Linked DNA regions of Homo sapiens: regions 1 and 2 are each linked to region 3. Evidence: fine-mapped expression QTL. A gene starts in region 3. Each other region holds a variant in brackets. All regions are shown on one strand. Distances are between the middles of the regions.

Evidence for each region. PIP is the estimated chance that this variant, and not a neighbour inherited with it, causes the effect.
Region 1: its variant is the best candidate, but not a certain one, in a credible set for the expression of KATNIP in whole blood (TOPMed, PIP 0.76).
Region 2: its variant is the best candidate, but not a certain one, in a credible set for the expression of KATNIP in whole blood (INTERVAL, PIP 0.87).

Annotation. Positions count from the first base shown.
Region 1 is chr16:27,740,060-27,751,418 of GRCh38, forward strand. KATNIP (katanin interacting protein) reads left to right here. Exons shown (of 28, transcript NM_015202.5): 15 at 1-861; 16 at 9,525-10,247. It overlaps LOC105371157 (a long non-coding RNA gene), which reads right to left and starts at 7,831. Exons shown (of 3, transcript XR_950957.3): 1 at 7,728-7,831; 2 at 7,304-7,439; 3 at 6,257-6,331. The variant C/T (reference allele first, on the strand shown) is at 6,208.
Region 2 is chr16:27,646,146-27,657,504 of GRCh38, forward strand. It overlaps KATNIP (katanin interacting protein), which reads left to right. Exons shown (of 28, transcript NM_015202.5): 6 at 2,459-2,590. Among named protein-coding and RNA genes, the nearest start is that of KATNIP, 100 kb to the left of the region's middle. The variant C/T (reference allele first, on the strand shown) is at 5,513.
Region 3 is chr16:27,545,421-27,553,477 of GRCh38, forward strand. It overlaps KATNIP (katanin interacting protein), which reads left to right and starts at 4,724. Exons shown (of 28, transcript NM_015202.5): 1 at 4,724-4,757. The coding sequence starts at 4,751. It overlaps GTF3C1 (general transcription factor IIIC subunit 1), which reads right to left and starts at 4,493. Exons shown (of 37, transcript NM_001520.4): 1 at 4,250-4,493; 2 at 1-103. The coding sequence starts at 4,470. RefSeq lists enhancers at 4,390-4,469, 4,480-4,589.

The sequences.
Region 1 (11,359 bases), 200 kb after region 3:
AGAACGTGAAGCTTTACGTCAACAGAAACCTCATCTTCAATGGCAAGTTAGACAAAGGAGATAGGGAGGCCCCAGCTGACCACAGCATCCTGGTTGACCAGAAGAACGAGAAGAGCGAGCAACTAGAGGAGGCCATGAACGCTCACTCGGAAGAAAGCAAAGGCACCCATGAGATGGCTGGTGCCAGCGGGGACAAGGAGCTTGGTCTCGGTTGCTCACCGCCAGCTGAAACATTAGCGGATGCAAAGCTTTCTTCACAAGGAAATGTGTCTGGCAAAAGAAAGAATTCTACTAATTGCAGGAAAGACAGTTTGTCCCAGTTAGAGGAATATTTGAGACTGTCGGCAGTCCCCACTTCGATGGGTGACATGCCCAGTGCTCCTGCCACTTCCCCACCTGTGAAGTGCCCTCCTGTCCATGAGGAGCCCTCTCTCATCCAACAACTGGAAAACCTCATGGGCAGAAAAATCTGTGAGCCACCCGGGAAAACCCCATCCTGGTTACAACCTTCTCCCACCGGCAAGGACAGGAAGCAGGGAGGCAGGAAGCCAAAACCCCTCTGGCTTAGTCCCGAGAAGCCCCTGGCCTGGAAGGGCAGGCTCCCATCAGACGATGTCATCGGTGAGGGTCCTGGAGAGACCGAGGCCAGGGATAAAGGCCTACGGCATGAGCCAGGGTGGGGGACCAGCCGGAGTGTCAACACCAAGGAGAGACCCCAGAGGGCAACCACCAAAGTCCACAGTGATGACTCAGACATCTTTAACCAGCCCCCCAACAGAGAGCGCCCTGCTAGTGGGAGGAGGGGCTCAAGGAAGGATGCTGGCAGCAGTAGTCATGGGGACGACCAGCCAGCCAGCAGAGGTAAGCTCCAAAGAGCAGCCCGACTTGGGCATCATCATCCCAGCCCCTCTAATTGGCATGAAGCCAGTTAGCTCCTGGACCTCAGTTTCCTTATCTGCACAACAAGATGGTTGTTCTCAACTAAGGGTCACAAAATCACTGTCTCAGGGGCCAAAGAGATGCATACATGAGTGAAATGGGCAAGACACATTTTGCATGGTAAATTCATAGATGTATTTGTCATTGCCACCAAGGTATGTCCCTTTGCCCATTTTTCTTGCAACACATGGCTTTTCCAAGCCATTTTCCAAAAGACTTTGTTCTCCTGCCTTTCATAGAGACATCGGTCTCTAGTCACTTCACTTTATCCTTAACTGTACTGTTAGAAAAATAGCTGGGTACAGTGGCCAGGCCTGTAATCCCAGCACTTTGGGAGGCTTAGGTAGGAGGATCGCTTGAGCCAAGGAGGTCGAGGCTACGGTGAGCCATGATTGCGCCACTGCACTCCAGCCTGGGTGACACAGCGAGACTCTGTCTCAAAGAAAAAAAAGAAAAAATAATAACACAAGTGTGATGATGCATAGCAATTGACACTTGCCTGAGTGTTGGAAGTGGCACAGGGAATAGTGAGGACTTTGGCAATTTGGAGACCATAAGCCCACCCACAGGGCGGCTGCCACTCCACTCAGGTTTCTAATAAGCATTTAGGAGTGCAAGGCCAGGCCGGGCGCAATGGCTCACACCTGTAATCCCAGCACTTTGGGAGGCCGAGGCGGGCAGATAACCTGAGGCCAGGAGTTCGAGACCAGCCTGGCCAACATGGTAAAACCCTGACTCTACTAAAAATACAAAAATTAGCCAGGCATGTGGTGCGTTCCTGTAATCCCAGCTACTTGGGAGGCTGAGGCAGGAGGATCACTTGAACCTAGGAGGTGGAGGCTACAGTGATCCGAAATTGTGCCACTGCACTCCAGCCTGGGCAAGAGAGTGAGACTCCGTCTCAAAAAAAAATAATGAATGCAAGGCCACTGTACCAGACCTCCTCTTTACTTTTTTCAAGAGAAACCAGAAATGTTTCTTATTTTTTGACTTTGGCAACTGATTGAGATTATTTTTAAACTACTGTATATGTCAAAAAAAAAAAAAAAAGGCACATCTGCTGGCAGGACTCACCCTGAGAGCTTTGTGAACTTTGCAGTAGATGATTAGATGGTCTTCAAGGGCATTCCTGATTATGAAAGGAGAGCCCATCAAGGCAGGGAGTCTCAATATTTGCACTCAGACTTGGCTCCTGGAGAGTACGGATAGCAGCTAGGAGTCAAACCATTGAATCCAAACTCAGCCGCTTACAGACCTGGGACCTCTAGCCAGGCACACAACTCTCTGGGCCTCAGTGTTTTCATCTGTAAAATGGTTATGACTTCCCCACCCAGTGTGGCAAGGAAAGAATGAGATGATGGCTTCCAAATAGCAACACTGAGCCTGTGACATGATGAGTGCTCGGTGAGTAGTAGTCGTTATTTCACCACTAGCTTGGACGAGGTCCTTTTCCATCCACAGAACACTCAGGCCTGCCATGCCAGGGCTCACCCCTAGAGCCTCTGGATTTAACCCCACCCCATACCACGTGGGAGCACAAACCCTGGAGCCAGGCTGCCTGGGCACGTATCCTGGCTCCATCACCTCCAACCCACACCTCAGGCAGGTTCTGAAACCCTGCTGAGCCTGTTTCCTCCTCTGTAAAATGACACTAATAATACATGGGGTGCTGGGAGAATAAATGAGATCATACTTGTGGGGCATTTAACACAGTGCCTGGCACACAGGAGCCCCCAAGAGATATTAGCTGTTCTGTCATCATCATCACCCTCTCTGTGATGCTGCCTCTTGGTGAAATATCTATGCAAAGCCAAGGCATGCATTTTTTTTTCTAGTTTTCTTTTCTTTTTTTCTTTAACTTTTATTTTGGGTTCTGGGGTACACGTGCAGGATGTGCAGGTTTGTTACATAGGTAAATGTGTGCCATGGTGATTTGCTGCACCTATCAACCCGTCACCTAGGTATTAAGGCCAGCATGCATTAGCTATTTTTCCTAATGCTCTCCCTCCTCCCACTACACCCCCCAACAGGCCACAGTGTGTGATGTTCCCTTCCCTGTATTCATGTGTTCTCGTAGTTCAGCTCCCACTTATAAGTAAGAACATGTGGTGTTTGGTTTTCTGTTTCTGCATTAGTTTACTGAGGATAACGGCTTCTGCCTACCTCCATGTCCCTGCAAAGGACATGATATTGTTCCTTTTTATGGCTGTATAGTATTCCATGGTGTATATGTACCACATTTTCTTTATCCAGTCTATCATTGATGGGTATTTGGGTTAATTACATGTCTTAATGCATGCATTTTTTTAATGATTCAAATCGGCATCTTCTGTATTAGGGAGTGTCTAGCAGATATACCCCTGACATGTCACTTAGGGTACAGGAACAAGTTCCTCAGACTCCAAGTGTTATCCTGGACAGAGCTGCCTCCTCTGATTCCCCAGCCTTACAAATTTTTGCTGCTCACCCCTTCTGAGACTTAACACTGAGGCTCAGTCAGTGTCAGGAGGAGGGTAAGGTGGAAAGAAAGAGTTGAGGAGCTCTCTGAGGGCAGGCGCCTGGCTCATGGCAGGTCCTCCACAGTGTGGGAGGGCCATTGTAAAAAAGAACTGCAGTGACCAGGTGCACAGCATGCTTGTGGTAAGCCAGGCTCTGGTCCAGGCACGTTACCCAAATAACCTCCCAACAGACTCATTTTACAGATAAAGGGAACATGAGATTGAAGTAATATTTTTCAGGTCACATAGACAGTAAGGGTTAAAGCAGGACTGGAACCCGCACAGATCAGCTCTACCATACATGTTTCCAAACATTACCCTATAGTAGTCACGGCCTATGGTCACAGCCATCATCACCCACCTGCCCCGGGAAAGCCAGGCCTTCCAAGCTTTCCCAGCAAACAGTCGGTGCAAAGCCTCCAGGAGTTCCAAGGCAATGGTGTTACTCCAACTTGCCCAAATTCAAGAGATTTTGTTTCACTTTAATTTCTTTCCAAGCATTTCAGTGCTTGGCTCAATGCACATTAAGAACCAAGCCCCTGAGATTTCATGCTTGTTAAGTCAGTCGTGCTAAAAAGGAAAGTTGCTTAGAAATTTTAAATTATCCATTACCCAGAGCCAAATACCGTAGCCATGCCCTTCCGGAAAGGTACAGGCCAGCCTACCAAGAATGCTGGTAGAATGAATGACTGCCCAAGTTCTATTCTGGGATTGGAATTTCGTTGCCAGTATAAGAGAGAGCCTGGGTAGTGGGTGCACTGTCTCACACCTGTAAACCCAGCACTTTGGGAGGCCAAGGTGGGAAGATTTCTTGAGGCCAGGAGTTCAAGACCAGCGTGGGCAATATAGTAAGACTCCATCTCTACAAAAGTTTTAAAAAAAATAGCTGGGTGTGGTTGTGTGTGTCTGTAGTCCCAGCTATTCGGGAGGCTGAGGCAGGAGGATCACTTGAACCCAGGCACTGAAATGCCTGAAAAGAAATTAAAGTGAATCAAAATCTGCAGTTCAAGTCTGGAGTTCAAGGCTGCAGTCAGCCATGATCACACCACGGCACTCCAGCCTGGGTGACAGAGCGAGACCCTGTCTCTAAAAAAATGAAAATTGGGCTGGGCACAGTGGCTGTTGCCTGTAATCCCAGCACTTTGGGAGGCTGAGACGGGAAGATCACCTGAGGTCAAGAATTCGAGACCAGCCTGATTAATGTGGCAAAACACCGTCTCTACTAAAAATACAAAAATTAGCCAGGTATGTTTGTGCGCACCTGTAATCCCAGCTACTCGGGAGGCTGAGGCATGAGAATCGCTTGAGCTCGGGAGGCTGAGGCATGAGAATCGCTTGAGCTCGGGAGGTGGAGGTTGGAGTAAGCCAAGATCACGCCACTGCACTCCAGCCTGGGTGACAGAATGAGACTCTGTCTCAGAAAATAAAATCATAAAATAAATAATAAAAGAAAATAAATTTAATTAATTAAAATCAAAGTAATATAGGGAATTTATGAAAATCAAGACAGAGCAGGATCCGATCTCTTTAAAAAAAGAGAGCAAGAGAGAAAGAGCAAGCCTGAGAAATCTTATGCTCAGCAGAGCATCTCGTTGAATGCCATCTGCATTTTGGAAGTATTTTCATCAGGGGTCAGTTGTTTACAGGTGGAGGAGATCTCATCAGTCCAGTTTGAGCAGTAAAGAGGATGTTATTTGGAGAATCCTTAATGATCACCTTGACCCCAAAGGTAGAGAGTGTAGCCACTCATCACAGGGGACCGGAAGGAAGAACCAGAAAGTTGGCAGGAACCAAGGACGCTTCTTTCTATTTCTTCTGGGCCCTACCTCTTCTTCTCTGTGGGTCCACTTCCCCTCACTTTCCTCACGATATCAGCTTTCTCTGCTACTCACACGGCCTCACAGCCATATGAGCAGAAATGTGAGGAAATGGCCTCACAGCCCTGGAGTGACTATGCCCAGCTCTTGTTCCTGCAACCAATTCCAAAGTCTCAGGGGAGAAGCCAATTGGTCTACTTGGGTCAGGTGTCCACTCCTTGTCCAATCAGTTATGGCCAAAGGGTGATTCACTGGAATAAACATGGCTCTGTGATATCCCTCTAAGTACTTCATCGTTTCCTGTTTTAGTAGCAATTACCACATACCTCATGGCAGTGCAGTTGATTTTGACAAACTTCAGAGCTCCATAGTCCTATTCATCTCAATCTAGGAGTATGTCAGGAATTTTGATAGCACCATCTCATCACTGGGGGCCCTCCCAGATTGTGTTGACTGCAGGTTGAAGGAGTGGCTTTCTGATGTCTGTGCAGATTGTAGAAATGTTGGTGACAACAGGACAGAGCACTAATCCCAGCAGCTCCCCAATTCCCCAATTCCCATGGAGTCTGCAGACAGAGAGGTCCGTGGGCCCCCAGCCAGCTCTCATGTCAAAGAGGTCTAAGAGCAAGGCTCAACTCCTCTGCTTTTTTTTTTTTTTTTTTTTTTTTTGAGATGGAGTCTTGCTATGTCACCCAGGCTGGAGTGCAGTGGCACAATTTCAGTTCACTGCAACCTCCACCTCCTGGGTTCAAGTGATCCACCCACCTCAGCCTCCAAAAGTGCTGGGATTATAGGCGTGAGCCACCGTGCCCGGCCATCTACTCCTCTGCTTTTAAACCCAGAGTGTACAACTCAGGGAGAATAGGTTAGAAAGCAGACGCAGAATGAAAGCAAAGTCCCTGCCTGCCTCGCACACTCAGGCAGCATCCCTGACACGTGACATTCGGTGCTGT[C/T]TCCTTGGTGCGCTTGCAGACCAACCCAGGCCATTCATTTTAGTCAGTGGAAATCAAATCACATAAACTGAAGTCACGAGAATCCATCTGGGTAGTTCCTTCTGCCACATGTTAAGCCTCGTGCCTGAGGGGAGAGGATGGAAGAAACCTCTGGTATCTTTTTAAATGGCAGATGAGAAGTGGGGGAGGGCAGAGGACAGGGGCAGAGGAACTGACAGGTGGAGGGGGGAGTCCCTCGGCCTCTAGGCCTGATCCTGAGGGCTGCACAATTGTGGTGCCAGTGTCCATCCCTTCACTGGCATTTCCACACACCAGGAGCTGTGCTGCGCACTGGGACACCTCCAGGAGCGAGGATAAAGTGGCAGAGAAGGCCTCTCCAAGGAGGCGGGTGACAAGCAAAGCCAGCTAGGTGGGCCTCCAGAGGAAGAGCACTCCTGGCAGGGGTGCAGCAAGGGCAAAGGCTCTGAGGCCAGAAGAGACAGCCTGTCCAGGGAGCAGGAGGGCCAGCGGGGCTGGAGCTGAAAGATCATGGTGGGGAGCGCAGAGGGGAGGGGACAGGAGTCAGTGGCGGCCGTACTCAGGGCTGTGGGCATGGTAAGAGTCAGGTTGTCTTGATTCTCAGTGCAGGAGAGACAATGCCAGCTAGAGGGGTTGATGACAAATTCCATTTTAGGCACATAGAGACTGAAGTGACAGAGTGGACATGTCTGGACCTTCCAAGAGGTCATTGGAATTGAAGGATGGTGCCTAGGGAAGAGACGGCAGAACTTGACCTGTAAAGTTAAGCAGGGCCTGCCTGGGAACCAGGAGCTAAATGAGGGCAAGGAAGGATGGCAGTGTCAGGAGAGGAGCGGCCTGGGCCTTGGGACACCCCCAGACTGAGGGTAGGACTGGGGTGATGGAGAGAGTTGTCAGTGGGAGAGGCAGAGAACCAGGGAGGTATAGTGGCTCCTAAGCCAGTGGAGCAGGAGGTATCAAATGGAAGAGGTTTGCCAGGGATGTCACACATAGACTGAAGACTGACAAAGACTGGGAGGTCATTGTTCACTTGGAGAAGGCATTTCAGTGGCGGGTTAGGGAATTGTAGGAGTCTTACGGATGCAAAGGCCAGAAAGCCACCAGGAGTTTGACTTTAGGCACAGCTGGATCCAGGAGTTCAGAGGTTGTCATCAGGATCCTCCATCTCTCGACTCGTGTTCTCGGTGTTGGCTTCATTCTCAGGCAGGTTCTCTCTATAGGGTAGCAAGATAGTCTTTGGCAATTCCACATGTACATCCTTCCAGCTTCAGCACCACCAGTTTAAAGAGTGCCCCTCCTTGAGGCCAGCTTGGAAGGATACTGTCGGCATTGATCCAATTAGATGGCCGGAAGGTGGGGGGTGGGGTGTCCCCAAAGGATCCCCCAAATCTGAGTGGAAGGGGAAGTGGAGTTTGAGTGAGCAAAACAATCCCACTGGAAAGAGGCACCGGGTGGCAGGGGCTTGGGAGAGGCTGGGAGGGGTGGGAGGGGTGGCAGAGCACCTGAGCGAAACAGGGAGAAAATAGGGCTGTGGTTGGAGGGAGCCACAGGAGCGGGTCGCCTTCCTGTTTCTTCCTTTCTTCTCTTCCAGGTAGGAGAGATTTATGCATGTCTGCAGGCAAAGAGGGGAAAGTGCCAGTGGGGAAGGAGTGATTGGAGATTCTGGAGAGAGGAGATAATTGATGGAGCCGAGCCCCCTAGGAGACAGGCAGGAAATGGAGTACAGGGCACAGTGCGATATGAAAGGAGGAAAAACAGAATGTCAGTGTCAGCAGCCGCTGTTTTTGCAGGATGACACCCTTAGATGGCAGTGAGCCATGGCGTGGCTGTGAGAACAGGCCACTGCGTGGTGTGCACGCCGTGGCTCTCATGTTCCATAAGGAGCGTGGGGCCTTCAGATCAGTCTGGGACCGTGTTCTCCACGCACCTGGGACACAGGCTTTAGCCATGTGTGCAAGTAAATTCCTTACCTTATAATATACCTGGCTTAATGGCTTTTTAAAATAGCATTTTTGGCTGGGCGCGGTGGCTTACGCCTGTAATCCCAGCACTGGGATTCGCCCAGCTGAGGCAGGCGAATCGCTTGAGCCCAGAGTTCAAGACCAGCCTGGGCAACATGGCAAAACCCCATCTCTACCAAAAAAATAAAAATAAAAATTAGCCGAACATGTTGGTGCACACCTGTGGACCCAGCAACTCGGGAGGCTGAGGTGGGAGGATCACCTGAGCCTGGGAGGTTAAGGCCATGGTGAGCCATGATCACGCCACTGCACTCCAGCCTGGGTGACAGAGTGAGACCCTGTCTCAATAAATAAACAAATAGCATTTTTTTCTTGATGATAAAAGTATTACAGGCTGGGCCCAGTGGTCATGTGTATAATCCCATGTACTCGGGGGGCTGAAGCGGGAGGATCGCTTGAGGCCAGGAGGTCAAGGTTGCAGTGAGCTTTGATCACACCACTGCACTCCAGCCTGGGCAACAGAGCGAGACCCTGTCTCTAAAAAAAATTAAAAAGAAAGAAAATAAAAGTAATGCATGAAGGGAATTTAAAAAAATCAAGCTACAAAGAAGAAAATAAAAGTCCTTCCTGCTCCCCACCCAGAAACCAGGAACAACACTGTTAACACGGGTGCATGTCACCCGTACCAGGATATGCTGCATTTAAAGCTGCGTATCTGGCTTTTTCCTTTTAACGTTCTTTTACAAACCTTCCACCTGCCATTAAATTGTCTTTGAAAACACCGTTAGAGTCACGTGACTGTGACAGTCTCCAGCACACACCCTCTTGTGGCTGACTCAGACGCCTCAGGCAGCAGCATTGCCCCTGGTCATGTGAGTTTCTACAGTGGGGAGCGACTCCTGGCAAAGTTTCTAACACAGCCAAGTAGTCTTCCCTTGGTTCACACGATGATTGCATTCTTAGAAAATTCAGTCTATGAAAAAATGCTTTGTGTTTTTGCAAAAACAACCAGATTCTGGAATTGGGTGATCATAGACAATTATTTTACCGACCTGAATGGCCCACAGGACAGTCAGAAGCTGTGTGGGACAGGAGACCAAGCTCTGTGCCAGGGCCCCCATGCAGTGCAGGATGGTAACATGCCTGGCCCCAGCCATCCAGTGCCAAGAGGCCTCTTGGCTAAGGAGACAGCCGGGAACAACCCCGCTGGTTTCTAGAGGGCTCCCCTGGAGGTGGCCCTGCCTCACTGAGAGCCACCACAGGAGACAGTCTCTAATGGTCCCCACTTCCACACATGCCACTCACAGGGCTTCCCCCCTCTTGTGTCCTTTCTTCCAGAAGACACCTGGTCTTCCAGGACGCCGTCACGGTCAAGGTGGCGCAGTGAGCAGGAGCACACACTTCACGAGTCATGGAGCTCCCTCAGTGCCTTCGACCGCTCCCACCGGGGACGCATCTCCAACACGGAGCTCCCGGGGGACATCCTGGATGAGCTCCTGCAGCAAAAGAGCAGCCGGCACAGCGACTTGCCCCCCTCCAAGAAGGGGGAGCAGCCAGGGCTGTCGAGAGGGCAGGATGGCTACTCTGGAGAGACAGACGCTGGGGGTGACTTTAAAATCCCCGTCTTGCCTTATGGACAGCGCTTGGTCATTGACATCAAGTCTACCTGGGGGGACAGACACTATGTCGGCCTCAACGGAATAGAAATATTCAGTTCCAAGGGTGAACCGGTGCAGATTTCAAACATAAAAGCAGACCCTCCCGATATCAATATTTTACCAGCCTATGGGAAAGACCCCCGCGTGGTCACCAACCTCATCGACGGGGTGAACAGGACCCAGGATGACATGCATGTCTGGCTGGCCCCCTTCACGCGGGGCAGATCCCACTCCATCACCATTGACTTCACGCACCCTTGCCACGTTGCCCTGATCAGAATTTGGAACTACAATAAATCTCGGATACATTCCTTCCGAGGCGTGAAGGACATCACAATGCTGTTAGACACCCAGTGCATCTTTGAAGGAGAAATCGCCAAGGCCTCTGGAACCCTGGCGGGAGGTATGGCGTGTCTGTAAGAATTTTCTCAGAGCCCCTATCTGTGACTTGCTGAGAGTCTATGGGAAAAAACAGACCAGCTGGCTAGCCAACAACAGATCAGTCCTTTCTCTTTCTTTTTTTTTTTTTTTTTTGAGACGGAGTCTTGCTCTGTCCCCCAGGCTGGAGTGCAGTGGCGCGATCTTGGCTCACTGCAAGATCCGCCTCCCGGGTTCACGCCATTCTCCTGCCTCAGCCTCACGAGTAGCTGGGACTACAGGCACCCGCCAACACGCCCGGCTAATTTTTTGTATTTTTTTTTTTTTTTTTTAGTAGAGACAGGGTTTCACCATGTTAGCCAGGATGGTCTCGATCTCCTGACCTCATGATCTGCCCGTCTCGGCCTCCCAAAGTGTTGGAATTACAGGCGTGAGCCACCGCGCCCAGCCCTTTTTTTTTTTTTTTTTTTTTTTGGGTGGGGAGACAGGATCTTGCCCTGCACAGTGGCATGGTTTCGGCTCACTGCAGCTTCGACCTCCTGGGCTCAAGCAATCCTCCCACATCAGCCTCCTAAGTAGCTGGGACTACAGGTGCACCAACCCACCTGGCTAATTTTTGTATTTTTTGTAGAGACGAGGTTTCACCATGTTACCCAGGCTGGTCTCGAACTCCTGGGCTCAAGTGATCCACCCACCTTGGCCTCCCAAAGTGCTAGGATTACAGGCATGAGCCCCTGCACCCAGCCACAGACCCGGTCCACTCATCCCCTCTTACAGCATGAGTGTGCTAGGCCTGACCTCATTCAGCATCTCCCATAAAGCACCTGTCTTGGTCCGGCCCCTAGAACCTGAGTCTGAGATGGGGCATTCTTTGGCAAGTGACTTATGGAGGGAGTGCTCCTAGGAGAAACCTGGCATAGTGAAGCAAGGATATAGTTTCCAGGAAGCCCAGCCACAACCAGATCTTGAGGGAGGTCTGGAACATAAATTTCAGGTCTTTCCTGCCTGAAGGTGAAGGAGCAGGGCGTTAGAACCCCACCTACCAGGCAGTCATTGGAACCAAGGCTTGCCGGGTTGGAGCTGTAACTCCCACACCCTTCCAGGCAAGGCACTCTGAGAAAAGGATCCACCAAGATC
Region 2 (11,359 bases), 100 kb after region 3:
TGGTGTAAGCAAAAAGGAGAATGTTTCAGTGGGGCTCGCTTCAGGTGCAGCTGGATCCAGGGCTTCTAAAACCCATCAGGACTCTGCTTCATCCTCTCAGCTCTCTTTGCTCTTTCTGTTAGGGACAGGATGGTCCCCAGCAGCTCCTGATAGACTTCCCTCTAGCTTCACATCCCTCAAGAAGAGAGCACCTCTTTCCCACGGCTCTAACAGGAATCCAGGGCTGTTCTCATTGCTGCCTTAGGTCCGTTTCTATCCCTGGACTGGCTGGCCATAGCATGTTATAAGGGTGGAATAGGTGGATTGGCCAGGCCTGCCTCAAATCCCCACCATGGGGCCACATGTGGACTGAGAGTTGGGAGGAAATTGGGCCCCAGAGGAAAACAAGGGAGGTGTTTCCTGAAGGACACAGCCTGGATGCTGGACTGATGAAGCTGCAGATCCTCGCAGCCCCAGAAGCCCTTTGTTTGGCCTAATTATCAGGTGTGTGGTTGTCTGTGCAGCAATCAGGGCAAGAAGGTGGGCTGTGGCCACATGGTAGGGAACCTTGCGTGCCAGGTACATCAGTTAAGGTACAGGTTTGGCTGCTCCAGCAGGGAGACACAAGTAACAGTGGCTTCAACAGCATGAAAGCTGTTGTCTCTGACACAACACTGCTTAGATGGGAGCACTCGCCCTTGCTCCATGAGGTCACCCAGGAACCCCTGTTACTCTGACCATCCTCCAGATGTTGCTTTCCTCCCCCCAGCACCAGTCAGCTCACTCCCACCTCCCCATTGCAGCTGGCAGAGGAAGCTGCAGGGCCTGGGGAAGCTGGCCCCTGCCCTTTGAGGAAACACCTAGAAGATGCAATGCACATCCCTCCCTCCCACCCACAGCTTGTGAGTCAGAACGGGTTCACGCGGTTCCTCTTAGCTGCAGGGGAACCTGGGACTCCATGTGCACATCTGGAACTACAGGCAGTAGAAGCAGGGGAAAGTGGACATTGGAGGGGAGTCTGTAATCAGCCACACCAGGCCAATGAGTTTCCTTCCCAAAGAACGATCCAAAGGATACTAGAAGAAAGAGAGGCCCCAGTCCAGAGTGTCTGCAGTCCAGAAAGTTTGGGAAATGTCCCATGCTGTGTTTCATTTTAGGATATCTGCAGTGTGAGTATGTAGGCCAGGGTTTCCCAAACAAGTCTAATCACAAAGCCCCCCCCTTTCTTTTATTTAAAGACAGGGTGTCACATTGTCACCCAGGCTGCAGTGCAGTAGTGTGATCTTGGCTCACTGCAGCCTCGAACTCCTGGGCTCAAGCAATCCCCCCACCTCAGCCTCCCGAGTAGCTGGGACAACAGGCACACACCACCACACCTGGCTAATTTTTTTTTTTTTTTAAATGGAGTTTCGCTCTTGTTGCCCAGGCTGGAGTGCAATGGCATGATCTCGGCTCACTGCAACCTCTGCCTCCCGGGTTCAAGCGATTCTCCTGCCTCAGCCTCCTGAGTAGCTGGGACTACAGGCATGCGCCACCACACCTGACTAATTTTGTGTTTTTAGTAGAGATGGGGTTTCTCCATCTTGGTCAGGCTGGTCTCGAACTCCTGACCTCAGGTGATCCGCCCACCTCGGCCATCCAAAGTGCTGGGATTACAGGTGTGAGGCACCATGCCCCGCCACCTGGTTAATTTTTTAAATTTTTTTGTAGAGATGGGGGTCTCACTATGTTGCCTAGGCTGGGCTCCAACTCCTGGCCTCAAGTGATCCTCCTGCCTCGGCCTTCCAAAATCCTGAGATTACAGGTGTGAGCTACCACGCCTTGACCACAAGTCCTTTTTGAGAAGTTTAGCACCTACTAGAAGTCTACTGATAAAGAATTTCCAACCGACTGGGCATAGTGGCTCATGCCTGTAATCTCAGCACTTGGGGAGGACGAGGTGGGTGAATCACTTGAGGCCAGGAGTTGAAGACAAGCCTGGCCAACGTGGCAAAACCCCGTCTCTACTAAAAATACAGAAATTTGCCGCGTGGTGGCAGGTGCCTGTTGTCCCAGCTACTCAGGAGGCTGAGGCAGGAGAATTACTTGAACCTAGGAGGTAGAGGTTGCAGGGATCCAAGATCGCACCATTGCACTCCAGCCTGGGCAACAGAGTGAGATCCTGACTCAAAAAAAAAAAAAAAGAACAGAATTGCCAACCAAAAAGTTATTTTTAAAAATTCTCCTGCACGTTCTTTGGACAGCAAGAAACAGTAGACTCTTGAGCGAGGCGGCATGGCCCATCCAGTGCTGGCCCGGATGAGGAGGAGGCCTGTGGCCCATGCTCATCATGACACCACTGCTGTTGCATGCAGGCACACCACCCCATGGTATCTATGCCCATAGATCCTGGCTGAACCTCTCCAGTGCCAGTCCCTGCCCCGCAGAGGAATGAAGACCTCATTCCACCTTATCTGAAATGGCCTGCATTTTTGTACAGAAATCTGTGCAGATCAGAACAGAAGCTGGCCCACGGCTCCACATCGAACCTCCTGTGGACTATTCTGATGATTTTGAGCTGTGTGGGGATGTGACTCTCCAGGCAAACAACACTTCTGAGGATCGTCCGCAGGTAGGGATGGCCTTGGCCTTGTGCTCGGGACACCTGAAGGACGGCGAGGCTCGGTGCTGCAGTGGCCCCTCGGGGCACTTTCTGACAGTTATTTATTCTGTCCTTCACTCGCCGCTGTGTTCCTTCACTCTTGCGTTCATTTCACACAGTTTGATGAGCAGACCTTGGGCTAGAGGTCAGCATTCAGAGGCACCCGGTGACCAGGGGTCGGTGAGGCTGGGGTCTGACTTCTAAGGGTCACTAGCACATAGTCCCTGTACAGGGAGAGAATGCAGAGAGGTTGGGGCAGAGCATGGCGCAGACAGAGGAGGGAGAGGATCCCGGAAGGCTTCCTAGAGGGAGTGACTTTTGTCCTGGGTCCTAAAAGCTGGGTAAGAGTTTGAGGGGCAAGTTGGTGAGGGCAGGCAGCAATTGCTGATGCTCAGCCTGTCCACACGTGTATACATGCACCTGATAAATATTTCGAATACCACCCGCAGGGCGGCAGGAGCCACATGTTTAAAAGCCTAGAGGCCTATGCAGCTTTGGCTTGGAGTCCATGTCGGTTTAGCAGCTTACAGGGTTGACAACAGGACATTTTACTCCCCATCCTCAGATTGCCATTTCATTCCTGAAGTCCTTTGAACTGCAAAAGTATATCCCAGTCCTTCCTTCCACAAGCATTTGTTAAGCACCTCTCACTGACCATCAGGCTCTGTCCCAGGCACCAGAGATTCAGAAATGAACAAAACTGAAGAGGTGCCTATACTTTTTTATTTTTGTATTATTTTTTAAAGACGGAATTGTGCTCTGTTACCCAGGCTGGAGTGCATTGGTACAATCATAGCTCACTGCAGCCTTGAACTCCTGGGCTCAAGCCATCCTCTCACCCCAGCTTCCTGAGTAGCTGGGATTACAGGCATGGGTCACACCCAGTGAGGTGCCTGTTCTTAAGCAACCTGTGCTCCAAAGGGGAGACAGACAATGAAGAAAAAAGGAAGAAATAAACGATGAGATCATTTCAGGTATCAGTAAGTTCTCTGAAGAAAACAGAAGAGAAAGATGGGATAGCAAGATGGTGTGGGAGAGAAGGCAGTGTTAGCCAGGATAGAGAGAGAAGGAAGGCCTCTTTCCAGCATGACATTTCAGTTGAAACCTGATGGATTAGGAGTGACCTGGGGCCAGGCGCTGTGGCTCACGCCTGTAATCCTAGCACTTTGGGAGGCCAAGGTGGGCAGATCACCTGAGATCAGGAGTTCAAGACCAGCCTGGCCATGTTGAAACCCCATCTTTACTTGTAATACAAAAATTAGCTGGGCGTGGTGGTGTGCGCCTATAATCCCAGCTGCTTGGGAGGCTGAGACAGGAGAACCTCTTGAACCCGGGAGGCAGAGGTTGCAGTGAGCCAAGACTGCACCACTGCATTCCAGCCTGGGCGACAGAGTGAAACTGTGTCTAAAAAAAAAAAGGAGTGGCTTGGCAAGGAGCAATGAGAAAGGCATTCCAGATAGAGGAAGCAGCAAGCGTGCAACGGCATGAGGCCAGGCTTGTTCAAGGAGCAGGATGCAGGCACAGTGTGAACAAGGGGGATAAAGAATGAAGGAAGATTAGGTGCACTGGGGCAGAACAGGCCTGGGCCAGGGTGGAGGTAGGAGTGGATGGTTGGGGTTTACTCCAAGGGCATTATTTTTATAAATAGAATGAGTACATCATCTCCATAGTTATGTAGAAGCAAAATTATCCAGAGGTGGTAGGTCAAAGTCAAGTTGCTAAGCCAGACCCTGCCCCGCTTGCCAGAGTGGCATTTGTTCAACTCTGGGCCCCGGCTGCATATTCAGTGACGTCACCGCAAAGGCAGAGTCTTGCTTCTACGTATCGCTTTTATGAAGTGAGAAGGACTCTTACTGGAGATGGGAATGCTGTCCAGGAAATGTTCCTCCGATTTTGCTTTCATGCTTGTACTTCCTTATTTGCTGATAAAGGAAAGACAGATAAAGAGCAAGGATCACTTTGTTTCACATCTTGGTTGTAAAATACCCGAGTATGTTGGAAATTTTTGTTTCCCTAAAACAGAATATAAAAGTCGTTTTCTATGGAATGATCCAATGACTTTGTTTCTCTGCCCAGTCCATTAAAGTGGGGTTAAACAGTAGGCAAAATTGTGGACTTTATTACCTTTAAAACTCAAATCCCAAACAACACAGACAATTTGCTTTTGAACTAAACAGCCCCCTGCTCAGGATCAGTCTGTGCAAAACAGCCATCAATTTCTCTTAATTGGGAGGCTGGTTTTTAGCCAAGCATAATATGTTACAGTCCCAGCCCCAGATATGTATGTGCCCTTCAAGCAAGAGGCCATGGTAGTTTGCCTTTGGTCAAGCATTGGGCACCTCTCGTTAAATTAACATATAGCCCTTCCTTTGTGAGCTCTCAAGCTCCCTACAACACGGGACAGCAGCATTAAGTCCCATTAGCATCCTTTTGTGCACATACTCCGCATAGGCATGGCTGCTGCTCCGCCAGCACTTAATTTTCTCCACTCTGAGTGCTTGATTATATTTCTCTCTTTTCTTTTTTTTCCCCATCTTGAGGGGGCACTCCATAAGGCTTCACAGTCAATTTCCTCTTGGAGTTATTTTCCTGCAAAGTGTAAGAGTAAAATGGCAATGCCAGTTTTCAGCAAAGGCAGAAGTCTTAAGAGATGCAATCTGAACAGGGAAAAAAAAAAAAGGCACGTGGCTAAATATACTCAGCCACCTCACACTGTTTGCAAGCGCAACCTGAAATGGAGCAAGAGGAAATGCATGTCCGCATATGTACTTTTCATCTGACCTTCACTGTTGAAACACACCAGCCTCTCGCCTTTAATCACATCTTCCGTGAAGTTCAATTTCATAGCTTCTCTGAGTTCACAGACTGGCTTGCTGCAGACATGTTCTGTTG[C/T]CCTCCACCCCGTTGACTTGTACATTGCTTTTAAAAGATGTGAATTACTAGCTGACATTTTTATTTATTTATTTATTTTGAGACGTTGTCTCACTCTTGTCACCCAGGCCAGAGTGCAGTGGTGCGATCTCGGCTCACTGCAACCTCTGCCTCCAGGGTTCAAGCGATTCTCCAGCCTCTGCCTCCCGAGTAGTTGAGATTACAGGCGCCAACCAGTACGCCCCACTAATTTTTGTATTTTTAGTAGAGATGGGGTTTCACCATGTTGGCCAGACTGGTCTCGAACTCCTGACCTCAGGTGATTTGCCCGCCTCACCCTCCCAAAGTGCTGGGATTACAGGCGTGAGCCACCATGCCCAGGCAAGGGTTCCACATTCTTATACACTAACAGTGACCAGAGCTGAGGAACAGCTGTCCCCTTACTTAGGTGTGTGTGCTCCAGTGTACCACCATCCTGGGTACCATTCCGGACACTGAGGATAAGGCAGAAGAGAAACAAGTATATAATGTGTCAGGAGACAACAGGGCTGATAAGAAAAATAAAATAGGAAGGGGATAGAGAAAAATGGCCAGGGGCTGCTATTTTATATGGAGGGTGCAGGGGCTTCCCCTTGATGAGGTGATACTTAAGTAGAGGAGAGGTCAGAGAAGCAGCCATGGGTCAGATTGCATGGGGCTTGAGGGCAGAAATAAAGATACGGGATTCTCCTTAAGTTTGAGGGGAAACCATCATACCTGTTTTACATCTCTGGTGAAAGGAAGACACCGCTTTCCAGAGAGTTCTGCCAAAGTGGCAAGTCTTAGTTATGTTGGCTTTCCTGGGCACATGGTTGTATGCTGCAATGGATGATATGTTCACCGTTTAAGTGGTATTGTCTCTTGCTGGGCGCTGTGGCTCACATCTGTAATACCAGCACTTTGGGAGGTGAAGGGTCGCTTAAGATCAGGGGTTCGAGACCAGCCTGACCAACATGGTGAAACCCCATCTCTACTAAAAATATAAAAATTAGCCAGGTGTAGTGGCACACACCTGTAATCCCAGCTACTCAGGAGGCCGAGGCAGGAGAATCACTTGAACCTAGGAGGCAGAAGTTACAGGAGCCGAGATGGAGCCACTGTACTGCAGGGGCAGAGTGAAACTCCATCTCAAAAAAAAAAAAAAAAATTATATTGTCTCTGTTGATGTATCAGGAATGAAACAAAGTTTACGTTTTAAAAAATTATGATACTTATTTTCCTGATAATGCATAATTGATATAAAAAATTCAAATGACAAGGCTACCATAAGCGATGATTATGCCACTGCACTCCAGCCTGGGTGACAGAGCAAGACCCTGTCTCTAAAAGAAAAAAAACAAAAAATCAAATGATACAAAGAAAACAAAAGTCCTTTCATAATCCCACTGCCCCAGAGATAATTATTGTGAGTAGATGGGTAGATAACCATCCGGACTAAAAATGGCATATTTCATTATATCCAAGAAGAGATCATTGATCCAGAATATCCTGGACCTGTCTCGTTCCCAGTGAGTGGTATCTCCCAAGTTTAGTTACCTCTGAAGTCCCTGAGAGCGTGATACGTGACAGGAAGACAGGGCCACCCTGAAGTCTTCTGGAATGCCTTCTGAGTGTTCTTTCCATTGGGTGGATGGTGGCATGGGGTGAGTCTGGTTTTTTCTCACAGTAACAGTTCAGTGTCTTAAAGTGGTTATTGCTGACATTTATAAACGACTAAAGACCACCATCCTTGGCCAGCCCACCCCAACCCTGCCCCCAGCCAGACTCTGCAGCACATCCCTTCAGTCTTCCTTCATTCGTTCCAGTGATGAGACTTAGGGCAGTTTCAATGCGTGGGGTTTACCACAGCAGGAACTTAGGGCAGTTCCTGCTGTTTGGGGTTACCATATAAATGACCTCTGAGTGGGTGCCTTTTTAACATTTTTAATGGTTATTTTCACATAAATGGGATTATACCATCCATGCTATTTGATTTTCCCACTTTTTTTTTTTTTTCTTTTTGAGACAAAGTCTCGCTCTGCCACCCAGGCTGGAGTGCAGTAGCACAATCACAGCTCATTGCAACCTCTACCTCCCAGGATAAAGCAGTCATCCTGCGTCAGCCTCCCGAAGAGCTGAGACAACAGGAACTCACCACCACATCCAGCTAATTGTTGGGGAGTTTTTTGGTAGAGATAGGGTCTCATATCCCACTATGTTGCCCTGGCTGGTCTTGAACTCCTGGGCTCAAGCAATCCTCCTGCCTCAGCCTCCCAAATTTCCAGATATTACAAGGCTAAGCCACCATGGCCAGCCCCATTTACTTATTTATTTATTTAAAGACGGAGTCTTGCTCTGTCACCCTGGCTGGAGTGCAGTGGTGAGATCTTGGCTCACTGCAACCTCTGCCTCCTGGGTTCAAGCAGTTCTTCTGCCTCAGCCTGTCATGTAGCTGGGACTACAGGCACGTGCCAACACACCTGGCTAATTTTTGAATTTTTAGTAGAGATGGGATTTCACCATGTTGGCCAGGCTAGTCTCGAACTCCTGACCTCAGGTGATCTGCCCGCCTCAGCCTCCCAAAGTGCTAGGATTACAGATGTGAGCCACTGTGCCTGGCCTCCCATTTTTTAAAAAAACTCAACAACATACCTTGGCCATCTTTCTACACTGGTACTCACTCAACTGCCATACAGCTCCATGGTTCAGAGCACTGTTTTAGGAGTTGGTGGCCTGAGTTTGGATCCTGGTCCATTGACTGGCTGTGTGCCAGCAATGGTGTTGATGTAGCAGGGATGAGAGTGATCAGATCCACTTTAGGAGCAAGAGCAGAGGGTGATTTAATGAGGAGAAGATGGGAGGCAGGGAGACCAACAGAAGAGCGAGGCCCCAGCATGTCTTCAGGGACAGGAAGTTGTTTTTACCATGCCCAGTTTTCTGTGCTTGTCCCTAGGATACCAAATCTCCCACCAGTACCAAGCCCTGTGGTTTTAACTTCTCCCTTCTGAATGCATGTGGACATTCTGACCCTTCAAGCAGCGTGGACAAAGAAAGGATCCTCTTAACTATTCAGGATGTGATGGTAAGATCAGTTTTCAGCATCCTAACCCCTAAGGGCTGGGGATCTTTTCCGTAGCCAAGCAGCTGTGCCTGCCTTAAGATGGACTCCGTGAGAGAGTCTAGGAAAACCACAGGGCGGGCACGGTGGCTTATACCTGTAATCCCAGCACTTTGGGAGGCTGAGGCAGGAGGATGGCTTGAGCTCAGGAGTTAGAGACCAGCCTGGGAAACAGCAAGACCTTGTCTCAACTAAAAATTTTTAAAATGTGCAGGGTGTGGTGGCATGTGCCTGCAGTCCCAGGTACTTGAGAAACTGAGGCCGGAGGATCACTTGAGTCCAGGAATTCAAGGTTGCAGTGAGCTATGATTGTGCTACTGCATGTCTGCCTGGATGACAAAGAGAGAAGCTGTCTCAAAACAAATATACAAACAAAAACCGCTGGGCTGCTACCCCCTAGAATGGATATATATATATATATATATATATATATATATATATATATATATATATATATTTTGTTTGTTTGTTTGTTTAAAGAGATGGAGTCTTGCTCTGTCTCCCAGGCTAGAATACAGTGGTGCAATCATGGCTCACTGCGGCTTTGAACTCCTGGGCTCTAGTGATCCTCCCACCTCAGCCTCCCAAGTAGCTGGGGTTACAGGTACGCACCACCATGTCCAGCCAATTATTTATTTATTTATTTATTTATTTATTTTTGAGAGACAAGGTCTTGCTTTATTGCCCAGGCTGGTCTCAAACTCCTGGCTCAAGTGATCCTCCTGCCTCAACCTCCCAAAGTGCTGGGATTACAGGCATGAGCCGCTGCGCCTGGCCAGAAGATGTAAAACAATTCACAAGAGATTTGACTTAATGATGTTACATTTAAATAATAAGAGCTCACGTTAAATGAGCACTTACCGAGTGCCAAGCACCATGTTGAGCATGTAACATCCATCACGACGTTAACCCTGTGAGTTAAGTTCTAGGGATTTTCATTCCCATGTTATGGTTTGAGGAAACTGAGGAATAAAGAAATAATGTTGCTCACCCAGGCCTCAGGGAAGCCCCTGCTGGAAGCCCAGGCTCATGACTCCTTGTTCCTTACAATTCACAGTCACAGGCGGGGAATATTGCACTCATCTGGTTTTGCTCAGAATGTGCCACAGTCTGTTGTGAATATTATTGATGTTATACCCAGGAGCAAGGTATTCAGAGGTGACCATCCATCAGTTATGCTTAATAATGTTTTAAACAATGATAGAGAGAACTCTCCTTAGCCAAATATCTCCTCAGTGAATCCATGACTGAAAATGTGGATGAAAAATGTTTTTCAAAAGCGAAATCCAGTGAGGAAACAGCCAGACAAACCCAAATTGAGGGGGATACTCTAAAAACAACTGGCCTGGAGTCTTCAGAAATGTCAGTGGCAGCCAGGTGCGGTAGCTGATACCTATCATCCCAGCCCTTTGGGAGGCCGAGGTGGTAGGAATGCTTGAAGCCAGGAGTTCCAGACCAGCCTGGGCAACATAGGGAGACTCCATCTCTACAAAAAATTAGTTGGGTGTGGTGGTGCATGCCTGTAGTCCCAGCTACTTGGGAGGCTGAGGTGGGAGGATCACTTGAGCCCAGGAGGTTGAGGCTGCAGTGAGCTGTGATCATGGCACTACACTCCAGCCTAGGCAACAGAGTGAGACTCTGTCTCAGAAAAAAAAAAAAAAAAAAAAAGGAAGAAAAAAAAGTCAGTAGCATGAGAGACAAAGGGCACTGTTTCAGATTAAAGGAGAGTAAAGAAATAACACAATAGCAAAGACTTGGAACCAACCCAAATGTCCAACAACGATAGACTGGATTAAGAAAATGTGGCACATATACACCATGGAATACTATGCAGCCATAAAAAATGATGAGTTCATGTCCTTTGTAGGGACATGGATGAAATTGGAAATCATCATTCTCAGTAAACTATCGCAAGAACAAAAAACCAAACACCGCATATTCTCACTCATAGGTGGGAATTGAACAATGAGATCACATGGACACAGGAAGGGGAATATCACACTCTGGGGACTGTGGTGGGGAGGGGAGGGGGGAGGGATAGCATTGGGAGATATACCTAATGCTAGATGACGAGCTAGTGGGTGCAGCGCACCAGCATGGCACATGTATACATATGTAACTAACCTGCACAATGTGCACATGTACCCTAAAACTTAAAGTATAAAAAAAAAAAAATCCTAAAAAAAAACACAATAAAGGCAGTGTGATGAGATCCTAGGGGTGTGAGGGAGAGGAATTGCTACATAAAAGGAGAATTTTGGAAAATGAATGAAATTTGAGATGAACTATATTATATTAGATAATATTGTATTGATGTTAAATTTTCTGAGTTTGATAGTTACATTGTGGCCATGTAAGAGAATGTCCTTGTTCTCTGGAGACACATGCTGAAGTGTGCAGGCATGAGGGGCTGTGCATAAATGGGTCAGGATCAAGAATATGTGTGTACATATTGAGAAGGAAAAAGTGGGAGGGGAGAGAAGGAGAGAAATGTGGCAAAATGTTAACAACTGGTGAATATACGTGAAGGGTATTTGGGTGTTCATTATACTAGCATGATACGTTTTCTGTAGGTTTTACATTTTTTCAAAATAGAAAAAGCTAGCACATTAAAGAGGAGAGGAGCTGCTCCAGTAGAACTAAGCATCACCAAAAGAAGAAATAGAGAAAAATGGCCGGGCACAGTGGCTAACACCTATAATCCTAGCATTTTGGGAGGACGAGGCGGGTGG
Region 3 (8,057 bases):
ATCCTTATTCTCTAAGATCATATGAATGGGGTAGACATCCTCCAAAGCCACCGGGTCCCTCCTAGACTCCAAAATTCCAGTTTCCAAATCAATTTCTTCATACCTAAGGAGAAAAACACAAATATCAAAGCCCAACTCAGCTTCAGATATAATGTGTGCTTGGCTGTGTTCTTTTGACAACCTCCAGCAGAGATCAGAGAGAAGTGAGATCAGTCAGTTTTCCTGCCTTATAAATGCAGATAATCTTGACAAGCAGGTTCCTGCCTTTCTATCCCACAGAACGCAGACCTTTCCAGGACTCCCCAGACTATTCCAGAAGCTGGGTGCTGGGACCTAAACCTCCTTATTGGCCAAGTCATGGGCTTTTGTTTCCCTCCAAATCTGGTACTCAGTCTCCAAACCACCAAGTTGGACGAAATGATTCAAGGCTTTCCTCCGCTTTTTTGAGATGGAGTTTTGCTCTTGTTGCCCAGGCTAGAGTCCAATGGCATGATCTTGGCTCACTGCAACCTCCACTTCCCAGGTTCAAGCAATTCTCCTGCCTGAGCCTCCCAAGGAGCTGGGATTATAGGGGTGTGCCACCACGCCCGGCTAATTTTGTATTTTTAGTAGAGATGACGGTTCACCATGTTGGTCAGGGTGGTCTCGAACTCCTGACCTCGGTGATCCACCCGCCTCAGCTTCCCAAAGTGCTGAGATTACAGGTGGGAGCCACCACAAGTGGCCAAAGCTTTCCTCCCTTTAAGATCTCATCTTTCCATCTCTCCTTAGTTATCTCTCTAATATCCTAACCCATTTTCATGGTTTGCATTACCGCCTGCATGTTAACAAGTCTCACCTTTGAATCCTCAGTCCTTTTTCTCCAAATACAGATCCAATGTCTTCACTTGTCTATTAAATGCCTCCCATTCCAAATATGATTACCTCTCCCCAGCTCCAATTAAGTCCCTTCTTTCCCCTCTTACTACCGCTTTCTTCCATGTGCCTCTTACAACACCATGGAGACATTTTTCATTTGTGCTTCTTTCATGCAGTTAGCCAAGCTTGTCAAGTTTTTTTTTTTTTGAAAAAAAAAAAAAATACATACATATATATATATATAATTTTTTTTCCCCTCACTATGTTGCCCAGATTGGTCTTGAACTACCGGGCTCAAGTAATCTGCCCACTTCAGCCTTGCAAAGTGCTAGGATTACAGGTGTGAGCCACCTTGCCTGGCTGCTTGTCGAGTTTTATTTTGAAATCTCACTCATATCCTACACTAGTCTAATTGCGGCTAAATCCTATGTACATGTTTCAGCCCTTTCCTTCCTTGCCCCCTCTGTGTTATCTGCACCATTTAACCCTCCATTCCTTTTTTTTAAGACTTGAGTTTTGATCTTGTCACCCAGGCTGGAGTGCAGTGGCGCAATCTCGGCTCACTGCAACCTCTACCTTCTGGGTTCAAGCGATTCTCCTGCCTCAGCCTCCCTAGTAGCTGGGATCACAGGCACCTGCCACCACACCCAGCTAATTTTTGTATTTTTAGTAGAGAGAGGGTTTCACGATGTTGGCCAAATGATCCACCTGCCTCGGCCTCCCAAAGTGCTGGGATTACAGGCATGATTCACCACACCCAGCCCAACCCTCCGTTCTTAAATGATCCTGTCTCCTCCCAAACTTCCAGAACACCACTCTGACCTGACTGTCCTCTACCTCTCCAGCCACACCGCCTCAGTCTTCTTTTGAAAGTCCCTCACCCTCCATCCAGCCTTGAAATGTAGGTGCACTGCAGAGCTATATCTCAAGACCTCCAACCACACTACACTCTCTCTTAGGGCTGATCTTAGCCAGCTGCTTTAATTACCAGCTGCTAGGAATGACTCACAGATGTCTAGCTCAGTCCCTCCCTCTGGCCTGCTTTCACTCCCACGAAGCCAGATGTTTACTAATTAAGACTCTTCACTTGGACAACTCAAAAGAACCTGAAGCTAAATGTGTCACATGTCTCTTCAGCAAAGTCCCCACCTCCCCCAGACTCAACCCCCACGCTGTTCTTCCGTGTTCCCAGCCTCAGAGATGAGAATCAGGGTTCGCTCAGGTGCCCAAACAGCAGCCTACTATGTCTTGACTGCCTGTGCTCTTCATCCCCACGCCCACCATGGTAAGCCAGACCATGACTAGATTACTAAAAATCTCTCAACTTCACTCTTTGCCCCTAGTCTGACCCTCTCTTCAGTGACTTCTCACTGTCCTTTTGATAAAGGATAAGCTTTTTTTTTGAGATGGATTCTCCCTCTGTCACCCAGGCTGGAGTGCAGTGGCACAATCTCGGCTCACTGCAGCCTCCACCTAGCTGGGATTTCAGGCGTCTACCACCACGCCCAGCTAATTTTTGTATTTTTAGTAGACATGGGGTTTCACCATGTTGGCTGGACTGGTCTTGAACTCCTGACCTCAAGTTATCCGCCCACCTCTGCCTCTCAAAGTGCTGGGATTACAGGCTGATAAACTCTTTAAGTAGGTTAAAAGACTTGATTCCAGTCCAATTTGGCTGGAATCTGAACTCAGACCTTCCTCAAAGTCTGGGTTCTTCCCTTGCTAGTTGACTTTTAGCATGCCACTTGACCCCTCAGGGCCTCGATTTTCTCTTCAGGAAAATGGGGAGAATATTACCCATCTCCTAAGGTTTCTGTAAAAATTAAATAACATGTTGTATTAAGGATCTTAGCACAGTCCTAGCTATTCCTCATTCCCTACCTCCAATTCCACACTTCAGCCACTTACTTCACATTTGCTGTTCTCTGTCCAACAGTCCTCTTTGCCAACTGGCTGCCTAAATCCAACCTTTAAGTTTTGTCTCGAACATTATTTTATTTTATTTTTGAGACAGAGTCTCACTCTGTCACCCAGGCTGGAGTGCAATGGCTGAATCTCAGCTCACTGAAACCTCTGTCTCCCAGGTTCAAGTGATTCTCCTGCCTCAGCCTCCTGAGTAGCTGGGATACAGGCATGCGCCACCACGCCAGGCTAATTTTTGTATTTTTAGTAGAGATAGGGTTTCACCACGTTGGTCAGGCGGGTCTTGAACTGCCGACCTTGTGACCCATCCACCTCAGCCTCCCAAAGTACTGGGATTGCAGGCATGAGCTGCTGCACCCGGCCTGTCTTGGACATTATTACCTCTTGGAACCTCCCCTGACCCTCACAATATGGCTTAAGAGCACAGACGCTGAAAATAGCCTGGGTTCAAATCAATTCTTAGTCACTTATTGCCCCCAGAACCTTAGGTTACATAATCCCTCTCTGTGACTCAGTGTCTTCCTCTGTAAAATGAGGACGATAACAGCACCTACCTCATAGGTGAGGATCAAGTGAATTTAATCTCCTGTTTAACGGAGTTTAATCAAGTGAGGATCAAGTGAGTTTAAGCTCCTAAAGCTTCTAGAATAGATTCTTAGAACAGCAATGTGGCCGGGCGCCGTGGCTCACGCCTGTAATCACAGCACTTTGGGAGGCCGAGAGGTGCGGATTGTCTGAGGTCAGGAGTTCGCGACCAGCCTGGCCAACATGATGACACCCCATACCTACTAAAAATGCAAAAATTAGCCGGGCGTGGTGGAACATGCCTGTAATCCCAGTTACTCAGGAGGCTGAGGCACGAGAATCGCTTGAACCTGGGAGGCGGACGGAGGTTGCAGTGAGCCAAGATCGCGCCACTGCACTCCAGCCTGGGCCACAGAGAGAGACTCTATCTCAAAAAAGAAAAAAAAGAACAGCACCTCACCCATGAAGTCCCTGATAAATGTCAGCTTTTAGCATTATCGCTAATTGTCCTGATACGCAGATCTCGAGTTGCCCTAGGCTATCTGCACCGAATGAATATACCATGAGGGTCTGTTGATCTCAGGAGTCTCCAGTCTGGCTCTAAAGTGTCTTTCCTGCTCTAATCCTATCCTCCAATGTAAAGGAAACATTCTTTTAAGCCTGAAGAATATCCCCAATCCTGTTCGCCATTACCCCAAAACACACACAGGGACAAAACGGGACATCACTAGATTCTCCCCCTCCCCCCGCCAACTCCATCGGACTCCAGGGCCCTGCCAGGCCTGAGGGACCCCAGATTAGCCTTACCGCCGTGCCCCAACTCAATCAACAGGCCTCCGGTACTTGCACAGCCCCACTCCATTCCCCCGCCCTGCCCCCAGCTCCATCAGCCCCCGGGCCCTGCGCCCGCCCGCCCGCCCGCCAGGCCAGGCCGCCCGCTGACCGGTCCTGGAGCTGTAGGTCGGGTCGCTCCCGAGGCTCCTCATAGAAGCTGATGCCCGGGTGCGTGGCGAGGGCCCGCCAGAGAAACTCCTGCGTGCAGGGTTCCAAAGGCAGCGGGAAGGGCGGCACTCGCGTCTCCAGCCGGCTCCACAGCGCTGGCAGACACAGGCCATCGAGCCCCTCCAGAGCGACTTCGTCCAACAACGACTCCAGCGCGTCCATTGCTACTTCAGTCGGCGGCGCCCGGGGCGCATGCGCAACGCACCGCCAAGGGCCTTGGTCCATCGCGCCTGCGCACAACGATCCGGGGCCCGGGGAGGTGGGTCAGACCCAGGGTTCGGAGGAGGAGTTCCAGCGCGCCGGCATGACGTCACTCCCCGGGGGCGGGCTCAGTAAGTGGAGCTCCACCGTCATTGGTCCGGGGCCCCGCAGTAACCAGGGGAACTGCAAACAGTGTAGAGGCCGCTTCCGGTTCGAGCTCCCGGAACCGCCGCCTCTAGGGATGGACGGTGAGTGTCTGTGGGCCCCTCCGGGAGGTCGGGCTGTTATTCTCCCATCCCTCCCGACCGCGCTTTGGGCAGAATCCTAGGCCATGAACCCCTGGACCACCACTTCCTGACCCAAGGGGGTCTCCGAAATGAGGGATAGGGAGGCTTAGTGGTCTGGAACGCGGAGGAGAGCCTGGGGGAGTGGTCAGTGCTGTGACCATTCTGCTCGGCTGTGGTCGTGAAGGAAACCGGTACTGGCCGGGAGCTCAGTGAAGGGATGTAGGGTGGGGAAGGAGAAGTAGAGGTCTGAGGAGGGTCTTGTGAATGTTGGGATGTGGAACTGTCGGATTTGGGAGTTGATATGAAAACAAGCTTGATCGTGGGAGTGCAATCGTCAGGTGCTGGGAAAGGGAATTGGTGTGGGGGGTGAAGGGAGTTTAGGAAATACTCCCTTTCTGTGCCTTGGCGTTAATAATAATAGCTCCCTTTAACAAAGTGCTTTCCAGTACCAAGAACTCTGTAAGTACTCTTGGGCAACACCTCGCTAAGCTTCATACCAGCCTTTTGAGTTCAGCGTTGTTCCATTTTACAGATGATGAAACTGAGGCTCAGAGGTGTTAAGGAACTTGCCCAAAGTCAAACAACCAGCATGTAGCAGAGTGAGTGAGAAACCCAGACACCCTGTCTCTGGAGCTGAATTATGGAGCTTGAGATTTGGACCGGTTTTGAGGGTCCCTTTATTCCAGAGGTTGTAAATGCAGATGTCTGCAGAGGAGAGTCTAGTGAGCCGGATTGAGGCTGTAACTGAAAATCAATTCCTCACCTGAAAGGAAAGCTGCTCACCAAGCACCAGCTGATTGTCCTCTTGGGGTACTTCTCAAAAACAGGGTTGGCCAGTCACTCTGAAGGCCAGAGACAGCTTGTGGGCCCCCATTTAGGGATCCCTGATTAGAGTCATGGTATTGACAATTGGAAGCAAATGGAAAATAGGCTATTCTGATATCTCACTTTGCAGATGGGAAGACTAAAGTCTAGAGAGACTGGTAGGGTCTGGGCTAGAGTCCAGATCATTTTTCTAATTACAGCACTGTCCCTCACTTCTCGGGAATTTGTTCCTGGGGAATCCACATTCTTTTTATATTCACTGAATGTAGTGTGGAGAAAATGTTTTTAATTGAACATTCTGTCATATGCTTAAAATATATCTTTTCCCTTTGTACTTTAGAGGTACTATAAAATGTGCTTTACCATTTTGCCTTCTGGAAAGGTCAATGTAATGTTGCTATAGAACATCAGTCCTCAAACCTTTTAAGCCTTGGGACCCCTGTATGCTCTTACCTCAAAGAGCTTTGTTTATTTATATTTATGATATTTACCATATCGAAGATTTAAACTGGGAAAATCTTAAGATGTCCATTAATTAGTTCCTTTAAAAATAATAAAAATTGGGCCGGGCATGGACTCGTGCCTGTAATCCTAGCACTCTGGAAGGCCAAGGCAGGTGGATCACTTGAGGTCAGGAGTTCGAGACCAGCCTGGCCAACATGGTGAAACCTTGTCTCTACTAAAACTTAGCCGGACGTGGTGACACATGTCTGTAATCCCAGCTACTTGGAAGGCTGAGGCAGGAGAATCATTTGAAGCCGAGATCTTGCCACTGCACTCCAGCCTGGGCAACAGGGCGAGACTCTGTCTCAAAAAAACCCAATAATAATAATAATAATTGGCCAGGTGCAGTGGCTCATAATAATCATAATAATAATTGGCCATGTGCAGTGCCTCACACCTGTGATCCCAGCAGTTTGGGAGGCTGAAGTGGGTGGATTGCTTGAGCTCAGGAGTTCAAGACCAGCCTGGGCAACATAGCTAGACCCTGTCTCAAAAAAACTCCAACAACAATAAACCCATTACTTCTGAACATAAATAATATTTTTAATGGAAAACAATTACATTTGCCTCCAAAAAATTAATAGGAAGAGTAGCATTATTTTATGTTTTTTCAAGTTTATTCAATAGAAATAGAAAAAACTACTCTCATTTCTGCTTCAGGATTCAAACTGTTTTTTGTTATGCTGTTTTGGCTGGTGTGTATGAAGAAAATTTGGCCTCATACAAATATATAATTGGAGCAGAGAGAAACATTTTAATTGCCTTTTCAGATAACTGTAGACACTCTCCTTTCATACTATACAAAATTTAGCAAATGCCAGTTTCTTTTTTCTTTTTTTTTTTTTTTTTGAGAAAAAGTCTCACTGTCGCCCAGGCTGGAGTGCAGTGGCACGATCTCAGCTCACTGCAACCTCTGCCTGCTGGGTTCAAGCGATTCTCCTGCCTCAACCTCCCGAGTAGCTGGGATCACAGGTGTGAACCACCATGCCCAGCTAATTTTTTTTATTTTTAGTAGACATGGGGTTTCCCCATGTTGGCCAGCTGGTCGCAAACTCCTGACCTCAGGTGATCAGCCTGCCTCCATTTCCCAAAGTGCTGGGATTACAGACGTGAGCCACCATGCCTGGCCTGCAAGTGGCAGTTTTTTTTTTTTTTTTTTTTTTTTGAGACGGGAGTTTTGCCGTCGTTGCCCAGGCTGGAGTGCAATGGCCTGATCTCGGCTCACCGCAACCTCCGCCTCCCGGGTTCAAGCGATTCTCCTGCCTCAGCCTCCCAAGTAGCTGGGATTACAGGCATGTGCCACCACGCTCAGCTAATTTTGTACTTTTAGTAGAGATGGGGTTTCTCTATGTTGGTCAGGCTGGTCTCAAACTGCCAACCTCAGGTGATCCGCCCGCCTTGGCCTCCCAAAGTGCTGGGATTACAGGCATGAAGAACCATGCCAGGCCACAAGTGGCAGTTTCTTAAATGTTAGTCACAGTGTGTCATCTGAAGCCTTATAGGTGAACTTTTATACTGTGTTACATTAAAATCCATTGGTCTATCTTGCCCTTTCATTGGCTGCTTTACCCATATATGGTTTTATAACATCAGCCATTGGTCGTTTAGAAAATGTTGGTTCAGTGAGTTATGCAAATCTAAACGTTGACCTTTCAGATGCCATTATACGGTATTTAAAAAATCACATTTGTTAATATCACCACCTATTTCATTTTAAAAAGGAGTTTAAGTATTAGGAAACTATCAAACTCAAGGTAATGGAAACAAGTTTTCAACTTGTTTTCACTTGACAGCTTGAATTTTAACATTGGCAGCAAATATTGTCAGCTGTTTCCTTGAAGTGACAGACTCACTTATTTCATATTTGAGAAAATTTCTGCCAAATTCCCAAGACTGAATAACCAAAATTTGTCTATTATTTTATTTACTGCC